Regions from separate parts of the Homo sapiens genome. Here region 2 is linked to region 1. The links come from fine-mapping of genetic effects on gene expression. A gene starts in region 1. The other region holds a variant in brackets. All regions are shown on one strand. Distances are from middle to middle. Region 1 holds the start of LRPPRC (leucine rich pentatricopeptide repeat containing). Region 2 overlaps LRPPRC (leucine rich pentatricopeptide repeat containing).

Region 1 (4,395 bases):
ATGATAAGAAAGCAACTTTACAAAGATAAGGGGGAAAGGCCTTTACAGATAATGAAACTGAGGAACAGACAGGTTAGTAAGATGGCTGAGATTACGCAGTAAGTAAACAGAACCCAGGTCTGATGAACACCGAGACCACCCTTTCTACTAAACTATGTTCTCTCTTTATTCAGTTCTCCTCAAATGCAACAGTGAAGATAAAAGAAAATGTGGACCTTCCCCTGGCCTCACAGAAATGCTGAGGATTAGAAAAATAAGAGTAATGGGCACAACTTTCTCAAAAGAAACTCTGAAAGCCAAGAGATGTATATAGTTCTGTGCTCAGAGGCATGATTTCGGAAAGTTAACTGTTCAAGCCCAATAAGAAAATATAGGCAGACTCCAAATTACAAGTACGCTCCATTCCAAAGATTATAACTAAGTTGTTAAGAAATCATAAATTATTTCCTCCACGTAATTTTATGGCGAGATTAGGTGTTCAGGCTGGTCCATGAAGGTCCGCATAACCGTAGATATTATGACTCCTGTAGTAACCAACAAAGCACTTACTAGGCATCAGGCCCTATACTAAGTGCTTAATACAGATAATTCTGCAATATTCCTAACACTACTACTACTCCCACCTTATAGCTAAGGAAGCTGAGGCCTGGAGATGTTAAGTAACTTCTCTAATGGCATAATGCAGATAATTTGAGGATAAAATGCAGATAAATCTGGAGTAGGCTGCAGTCTGGGCCCAGCCTACTGCAGATCCCTGGCTCTCAGTCCTTACGCGAGCTCTCAAAGTACCTTAATTTACAAGCATCAGTCTTTCAAAATCATTTTTTCTCCAATGCTAAAAGCTCAGCACCTATCTCCCCTTCTCTGGTGGTCAGAATACTATTAATAACCAAATGAACACTTTCACCAACTTTTCTTTTCCCCTCCACTACAAAAGTCTATACCAAACCTATCTCTGATAAACCTCAAACCATGAGAGCATTTATTCGCCTATCTGACACCCACTTAGAGTTTAACTTGCCTTTGCATCCCCAGATTCCAACAGAGTGCCTTGCATGTGCTCATTCATTCAAAGACACTTACAGGACGGGAGCGGTGGCTCACACCTGTAATCCCAGCACTTTGGGAGGCCGAGGCAGGAGGATCGCTTGAAGTCAGGAGTTCGAGACTAGCGTGGCCAACATGGTGAAACCCAGTCTCTACTAAAAGTACAAAAGTTAGCCTGGCATGGTGGCGCACACCTGTAATCCCAGCTACTCGGGAGGCTGAGGCAGGAGAATCGCTTGAACCCGGGAAGCGGAAGTTGCAGTGAGCTGAGATCGCGCCACTGCACTCCAGCCCAACTCGCGCAACACCTTCTTAAATGCTGAAGGAAAACTCCATTCAAGAGAACGCAGGCAAAAGCCCAAAGTGATCATAATCCAGCGTCCAGCTTTAAGTCATCCGTGGCTCACCCAAACTCCCAACCCACTCCTCGCCGCCCCATCCCTCGCAAAAAGCTAAATTTCCAATATCTAAATGCTAGGTGGTTACTGATCACCAACGGTGACCGCACGTGGGACACCACCCAAGCTGGCCAAGTGTAAGGAAAAGACCACCACCCGACTTCCCAAAGCAGTCTTCAAAGCCCCCCTCATCTTCGTTGACCATGGGTACCCCGAGGGCAGTAAGGTCCAGGCTGAAGTGGCGGGGGCAGGATTCAAGCCGGAGGCAGGCCATGCCCACAGCCGTGACCTTCTGAAGGCGCTTAACCCTGTCACCCGAAAACCCCTGGTAGGGAGCGTGGTGCGGAGCCCGGGGAGGCTAGGTCCTGGGGCGGGGAGAAGGGTGGCGAGCACAGGCAGGACCCGGTCCCTGCCGGCACCCACGACCCCGGGGGACCCTGGCGCCGCAGCTTGCCTGGAGAAAGGGCCTGGGCACTCACCCGGCCACGGGCCCGGCGCGAGCGGCGGGCAGATAGGAGGCGGCATGCAGCCGGCCCGGGCCGCCAGGGAGGAGGCGCAGGGAGAGCGGGAGGCGCGGGGCCGCCCCGGCACGCAGCAACCAACGCGCGGATCTCAGCAGGGCTGCCATTGCTCGAACGTCCCCGCAGCGGGAAGCACGCTCCGCCAGAAGGACAGGAGGAGCATGTGACCGCAGGGTAGCCTGGCGCGGCAGAGACCAACTGCCGGGCGTGCCAAATGTGGGGGGAGCGACGGATTGTTTTAGGTTGGAAGATGGAAAACCGCACTTCTCCGAGGACAGAAGACCCAATGTAATATTTACATAAACGATGTTGCTTGATTCATTATCGAAGCTTTTCTTTTCCGTCTTCCGTCTCCGATCTGGGCATCGTGTTCATTCGCTGCACCCCTGCACTCCTCTGTTGGTAGAGCCGCAAGAGGTCAACTCCTCCCAGGTTGGCGCAGAGGCTTGTGGGAGGCCAACTAGTAAAAATACCGAGAACTCTCGAGGAGAGCCGACTATGAAGATCCCAGGACGTGGGAAGGTTTCCCCCGCCCCCGAGTGCAGATGTTGCTGCTAACGTTCAGCCCTGACGCCATGTCCAATAGGAACGGCCCTTCACTCTCAGAAACGCGGGCCGGAGAAACCGTGGAGGTCTTTTGCACCTTGCCGTTTGCCTCCCAGGTTCAACATGATAGGATGTGGATTATCAGGGCCTGGGAACAGTGTAAAGGAACGCGCAGGTCCCCACCCTAAGCGCGTACGCGGGGCCTCGCTTTAGAAAATAAATGAATTCTACCAAAAATCCTATAGTTTTAAAGCTGGAATTGAACTGACTCTCTTCCCCAACCCTCCACCCCTACCGCGCCTCTCCCTTCAGTAAATGCACATATACATGTGAGAAGTAAAAGAACAATGTAATTAAGAGTCTCCAGCCAAATATGGGGAGAAAACTGGCAAGTTAAACCCATCGCTGGCGAAGTGGCTCACGCCTGTAATCCCATCACTTTGGAAGGCCGAGGCGGGTGGATCACCTGAGGTCAGGAGTTGGAGACCAGCCTGGCCAACATGGTGAAACCCCATCTGTACTAAAAATACAAAAAATTAGCCGGGCGTGGTGGCGGGCGCCTGTAATCTCAGCTACTCGGGAGGCTGAGGCAGGAGAATTGCTTGAACCCGAGAGGTGGAGGTTGCAGTGAGCCAAGATGGCGCCATTGCACTCCAGCCTGGGTGACACAGCGAGACTCTGTCTAAAACAAAACAAAAAAACCACGTCGCTGCCTTCACAGGGCTTACAGACTGGATCGGTTCCCTGTGCACACGTGGGAAGCTGAGAACAGCCTTCCACTCCCTCTACACCTGCCTGTCCCCTACCTATCACGAGGCAAACGCGGCGGGTATTTCCTCTGGAAGCCCTCCCACGGTCATTTCCGAAGTGACTGTTTATCCCACTGGACTCCTTATCAGTTAATCCCACGAACTCCTTATCAGTAGGGACTGTGATCTCTTATTGTAGGCCATACACCTACCCAGTGCCAGACACACAGTAGGTCTCATTAAATATGTGTTAAATTAATGTCTATTTTGAGATGACCTAGCTCACCTCTCCTTTGAGAGATGAGGGAACGAAGACACCCGCTCCAAGCCCCCAAAAGAAACAAGGTGAATTGATTGACTCTGGGTTATATTACTGAGCACTGGGAATACAAGTTATTCACCTATTCAACACGTATTTATTGAATACATATCCAGTGCCATACACTATTTGAAATCCTAGGAATACAGCAGAGAACAAAACAAACCAACCCTAGATTCTAATTAAGCTCTTTAAAGTTTAATTTGGGAAGACAAAAAGAACTGTGATGCAAAATACGCCAGGGTAAAGGGATTGAGGGTGTCATGGGGGGAGTTGCTTTTTTTTTTTTTTTCTCAAGACAGGGTCTTGCTCTGTCACCCAGGCTGGAGAGCAATGGCACGATCTTGGCTCACTGCAGCCTCGACGTCTGGGCTCAAGCGATCCTCCCACCTCAGCCTCCTGAGTAGCCGGGATTACAGGCCCAAGCCCTGGCTAATTTTTGTATTTTTAGTAGATACGGGTTTTTGCCGTGTTGCCCAGGCTGGTCTCAAACTCATGGCCTCAAGCAATCTGCCTGCCTCGTCTCCCAAAGTGCTGGGATTACAGACATGAGCCACGACGCCCGGAGAGTTGATATTTTAAATAGGAAAAACGTTGAACAGAAACCTGAAGGAAGGAAAGGAGGAAGCCAGGAGAATTTTCTGGAAGGAGAAAAAAAAAAAGAGTGGTTAAGGCTTAGAGAACAGCAAACACCAAAACCCAGAGGCAATAATAGGTGTAGCCTATTCAGAGAACTTTAAGGAGGAGGACTGTGTGGATGAGAGAAAAGAGCAGGGGGTAGAGAGCAGGGGGTAGGAGTAGAGGAAGGAGCAGGG
Region 2 (4,395 bases), 96 kb before region 1:
AGATACAGTTTTTCAGGTATTCCTTTTAAAAATGGATTGGATTCTACTGTCAAACTAGATGAACTTGAAGAATAAAAACTGGAGGTCAAGCACATGGGTAGTTTTACCTTCCCTATCTACTACTTAAGATCTTTCACAGCTGGTAAAAATGTAAGGGAATATAATACTATTTACGATCAGAAATTGGTCCCACGCCTCAATTTGACACAGGGAGTCTACACAAACACAGCCGTTGGCGGGATCACGGTGACTGTTTGACTGCCACCTGCTGGGAAGGGGCTCCCCGGCGGTGCCTGTTTGTGTACATTGCCAGTGGCAGCTAGGATCACCCACTGTTCTGTCGGCACTTGGCATAGCTTTATATTTAGTGCTGTTAAAATGGCATGAATGCAGTTGTCTCCTTCCCTGAAGGTTGCTAATTTAACTGAGAGTGCGGGCCACAGAGACCTGCATTTGTCATTTAATGTGTCTGTGACACACAAGTGAATAGAAAGCATATTCAACTCTTAATAAACCTTGAATAAGGCACTGAGAATGTTTGAGTATTCAAGTGAGAAGCTGTACTTGAAAAGCAAACATTTCCTACTTTTTGTTTGCAAACTGTGTTGCCATGGTGACGCACAGTATCTAGCGCATTTGAGAAATTAAAGTAGAAAATCAAAGGAATTGTTGTTTTGCATTATCTATCTGCACAGAAAGATTTGTCTTTAATCATTTCAGCGAAACTCGCTGCCCCATACCTACCCCCGCACCACCCGCCGCTCCCCGCTACCTCAATTCTAAAGACATTTCTAGTTTGATCTGGCATCTTTAAAACCAGTAACCTAAAATCTACCATCCAGTCCTTGTCCTGCAACCGTGATTCACACTGAATGTAAACAAGCTAGCTGCACACCACACTGAATTTCTAGTATTCCACCACACGCCTATGTCTAGTAATTTCTCAATTTACTTCTTGCAAGCCTCGAGCCCCACTGCTCCATGAGTGGAGGGTCATTACCTGTAGGAGAGCTCTGGCATCATCCACCTTGCCTGCATCCACAAGTTGAAGGAAAAAATCAGTGACAGGTTTATAAATTGCAAACTGATTGGCCAATCTCTCCGCCATGATGCTTACTGGAAAAATGACAGGTAAGAAAAATCTTTCATTAGAACAGTGGTATAACTCACCTACCAAAGAAATTTGGTCTAGTCTCACTAGAGAGAAAATGTGCTTGTGTGTTCTTTAGCACAAACAACTAACTTACTCTTTTCAACTGCTGGTTCCAACTGCTCCTCTATTACTTTTCTGAATAAGTATGCCAAGCCGAAGTATTGGGGTTCAATGACTTTATTCTCTGAAGTAAGCATATTTTCAATGTTTTCTATTGCGGCATCTATGTTATTACTGTTAAAAGCAAAATAAATTACTTAAAAATTTGCTTTTATGTTAATATTACAGGCAGTTTAGTCTAAGAACTTACTTTTATATCCACTCATGCTAATACTTTAGGAAAAAAATGAAATACATTTACACTTAACCAAATAAACACTAGGCAACTGAAACCCTGAATCACATTTAAGTAGCAAAAACATTCACTAGCTGGTTCGTGCTGCAGTGGTTGTTTATTTTGCTTCACAGCAGTTCAAATAGTTGCTTGTTTTAACAATGCTCTACAGACAAGATCAAACAACTATATACAGGAGAATTAATGAAGATAACTTTTAAAATTCTGTATCTTAAATATTTAACTTAATTTTTGCCACTCTTTGGATATAAAATGAAAACTTGTATAAATGCTACAATTTTGGCTTTATGATCCACAACTTGTCACTACTGCATAAAAATAGTATTTAACATCTCAGGATTCTTAAAGATACTGATGATGTTTCAAAAGGCATATATGCATGTCTCTAACTTATGGTCGCCTCAATTTCTTTTTGTCAGGTATTATACATTTGGAAAATACTCAGTTTATACTAAAAATCTCAGGAAAAAGTATCTTCACACTTTACATTGAAAAAAATCAGTTACATGGTCTTATTTAGCAAGTTATGGTAAAAATTATCTCTATGACTATCTTTTTGGTTAAGGTAATCTATAATGGATACTTTACTGTTACCATATGGCATACTAAATCCAATCAGTCAATA[T/C]TGTGTTGAAATTATTATATTAAACATAATTCTCTAACTAAAAATGAATACTGTTACAATATATTTCTCTTACAAGTTTTAAGGAATTACTTAATAGTGAATATGTTCTCCGAATCATATAAAACTGTGTTTATGTGGTAAAACTTTAAAATTCACCCAGTTCTTAGATGAGTAATTTCTTCAATCTTCTAATGTAAAACAATCACATTTTCTTATTAAAGGGAAGTTCTATCTGGCGAAATAGTTTGAAAAGGTCAAAACAAAACACAACTGTTTCTCAAACAAACAAAAAAAAACCCCTACAAAAACAAACATTATATTTTAATATCATGTCCCATTAAATGTATGCAAGATTACTAAAGAACATTTTTTCTAAAAGCATACTGAAAGTATCAAATTCCATAAAGTACTTTGCTAGGGAGCTTATTAAAAATCAAGTCCTTATTTATTTCTACAGGGGTAATTCTCAAAAGGAATCTAGAGACAGTGGTAAGAAAATCAGCTCTAAATACCTCCCTTTTTGTGGGGGTGGGAGAGTGTTCACGGGGTGGGTAAGGAATATGAATACGGAAATGCACATTTTTAATAAGCTTGCGGGGCCTTCTGCTTCACAATATTCTACTAGTGTCCCTATCAAATATTACTGACAAACAAATGAGATCATTTTTCACTTCTGAACAAAGTGTTTCGACAACAAGAGGCCTGGCATATATACACAGGAATGAGAAAGGTTATCAACTGTGGAGCAAGATTTATGAATTTGGTAAATGCTGTTTATTCTAAGATTTAAGGTAAAGAAAAAACATATTTTTCAACATATAATTATTCCCTAATCAGCAACTAGCATCAACATTTCCTCTGCAGTTGATAAGGTTTCCACATGTCTAAAAAAGTTTTTAAAAGGTGGTATCTGAGGCAATGCCCATTCTAGTGACCAATGAAGGAAAAGAAGGCTTGCAAATACTCACTTCTTTATTTGAGCCAAAGCAATGTTATTGATGAAAACCATTTTTGAAAGTCCAATGGAGTCTTCGAGTCCATTTAACATCTTCTGAACTACTTCTATGTTTTCAACATCACCCTTCATGGCCAATGCCTGGATGACACGGGTCACTGCTAACCTAGAAGGGGTCTGCTGCTGATCCAATACTGTTTTCAGTGTTGTCACAGCCTCTAAAATACAAGAGCAGGAGATGGCTTTTCTTATATGACCTGTGCTGACTTTAATGCATTTTGAAAACCAGCTTTTAAATATGAGCACCAAATGGCCATAAACAAAAAGCTATGAATAATTAATTTTAGATTACAGAAAATTATTAATACTTCATGAGATACCCCCAAAAATTATTTACTTGACTATATAAGATATTAGAGGCCCGAGGAATTTCTTCTTTAAGTCACAGAGAAAATACAAATGTTACCGACAATATGAGTTCCATTTAGGGATAACATTCAGTGACTAAAGTTGGTAAGTTCAAATGAATACAAATAAGAAAGATTTTCTAGAGTTTCCAAAAATGTGTGACTTCTATCCATGTTCATACTTGTCCAGATTTTAACTCGAAGATTAAATGATCATCAAAACTTAATATCCCAACAATTCTTTCTCAAAAACACTAAAAACATTGATCCTCTAGGATCAATGTTCCAAACTGAAACATTGAACTTTAACACCAACAAATTTATTTTATGATTAGATGCCTTGTGATTATTTTCCTGCACTAAATTAAAAAATAATGCCTACTGATTTCCACAAATACAGACAGTCCCTGACTTACGATGGGTTTATGGGGTAGTTAATGCATTTTCAACTTTATCCCGACTTAGCCCCATCGGTAAGTTGAGGAGCATCAGTATAATCAATGGAGTTTTGTTTGTATGTTTTTTTGAAGTATCACACTTTCAAGTACTTGATTATAAATAACTATGGAATAGCCTTCTAGCTAACTGACTCATAAAACTGTAGCAAAATCATGATATGAAATAAAGTGGTAGACTGAGGAGTAGCCTAACAATCACCCCTACCATTATCGAAGAAAACTTAATAGCTTTATAGCAACTAAAGCAATGTAACTTAGACAAAACTAAGACTCTCCAAACAGCTTTCCAACTAAGAACAGCTTAGTTTTACAGAAAAATGGGGAAAGTGTATTAATTGAAGTGTACTCAAAATACAGTGGAAAGACATGATGAATTTAGTGTTCATTAATGAATAAAGAATTTATGATTATTTGAAATCTACAATCTTAAACCACTCATTCT

Evidence for each region. PIP is the estimated chance that this variant, and not a neighbour inherited with it, causes the effect.
Region 2: its variant is the best candidate, but not a certain one, in a credible set for the expression of LRPPRC in esophagus mucosa (GTEx, PIP 0.74).

What each region holds. Positions count from the first base shown.
Region 1 is chr2:43,993,875-43,998,269 of GRCh38, forward strand. It overlaps LRPPRC (leucine rich pentatricopeptide repeat containing), which reads right to left and starts at 2,115. Exons shown (of 38, transcript NM_133259.4): 1 at 1,925-2,115. The coding sequence starts at 2,073. RefSeq lists enhancers at 1,666-2,317, 2,113-2,392 and a silencer at 1,693-2,012.
Region 2 is chr2:43,898,219-43,902,613 of GRCh38, forward strand. It overlaps LRPPRC (leucine rich pentatricopeptide repeat containing), which reads right to left. Exons shown (of 38, transcript NM_133259.4): 32 at 3,102-3,306; 33 at 1,248-1,387; 34 at 1,001-1,116. Among named protein-coding and RNA genes, the nearest start is that of ABCG8, 61 kb to the left of the region's middle. RefSeq lists an enhancer at 152-446. The variant T/C (reference allele first, on the strand shown) is at 2,134.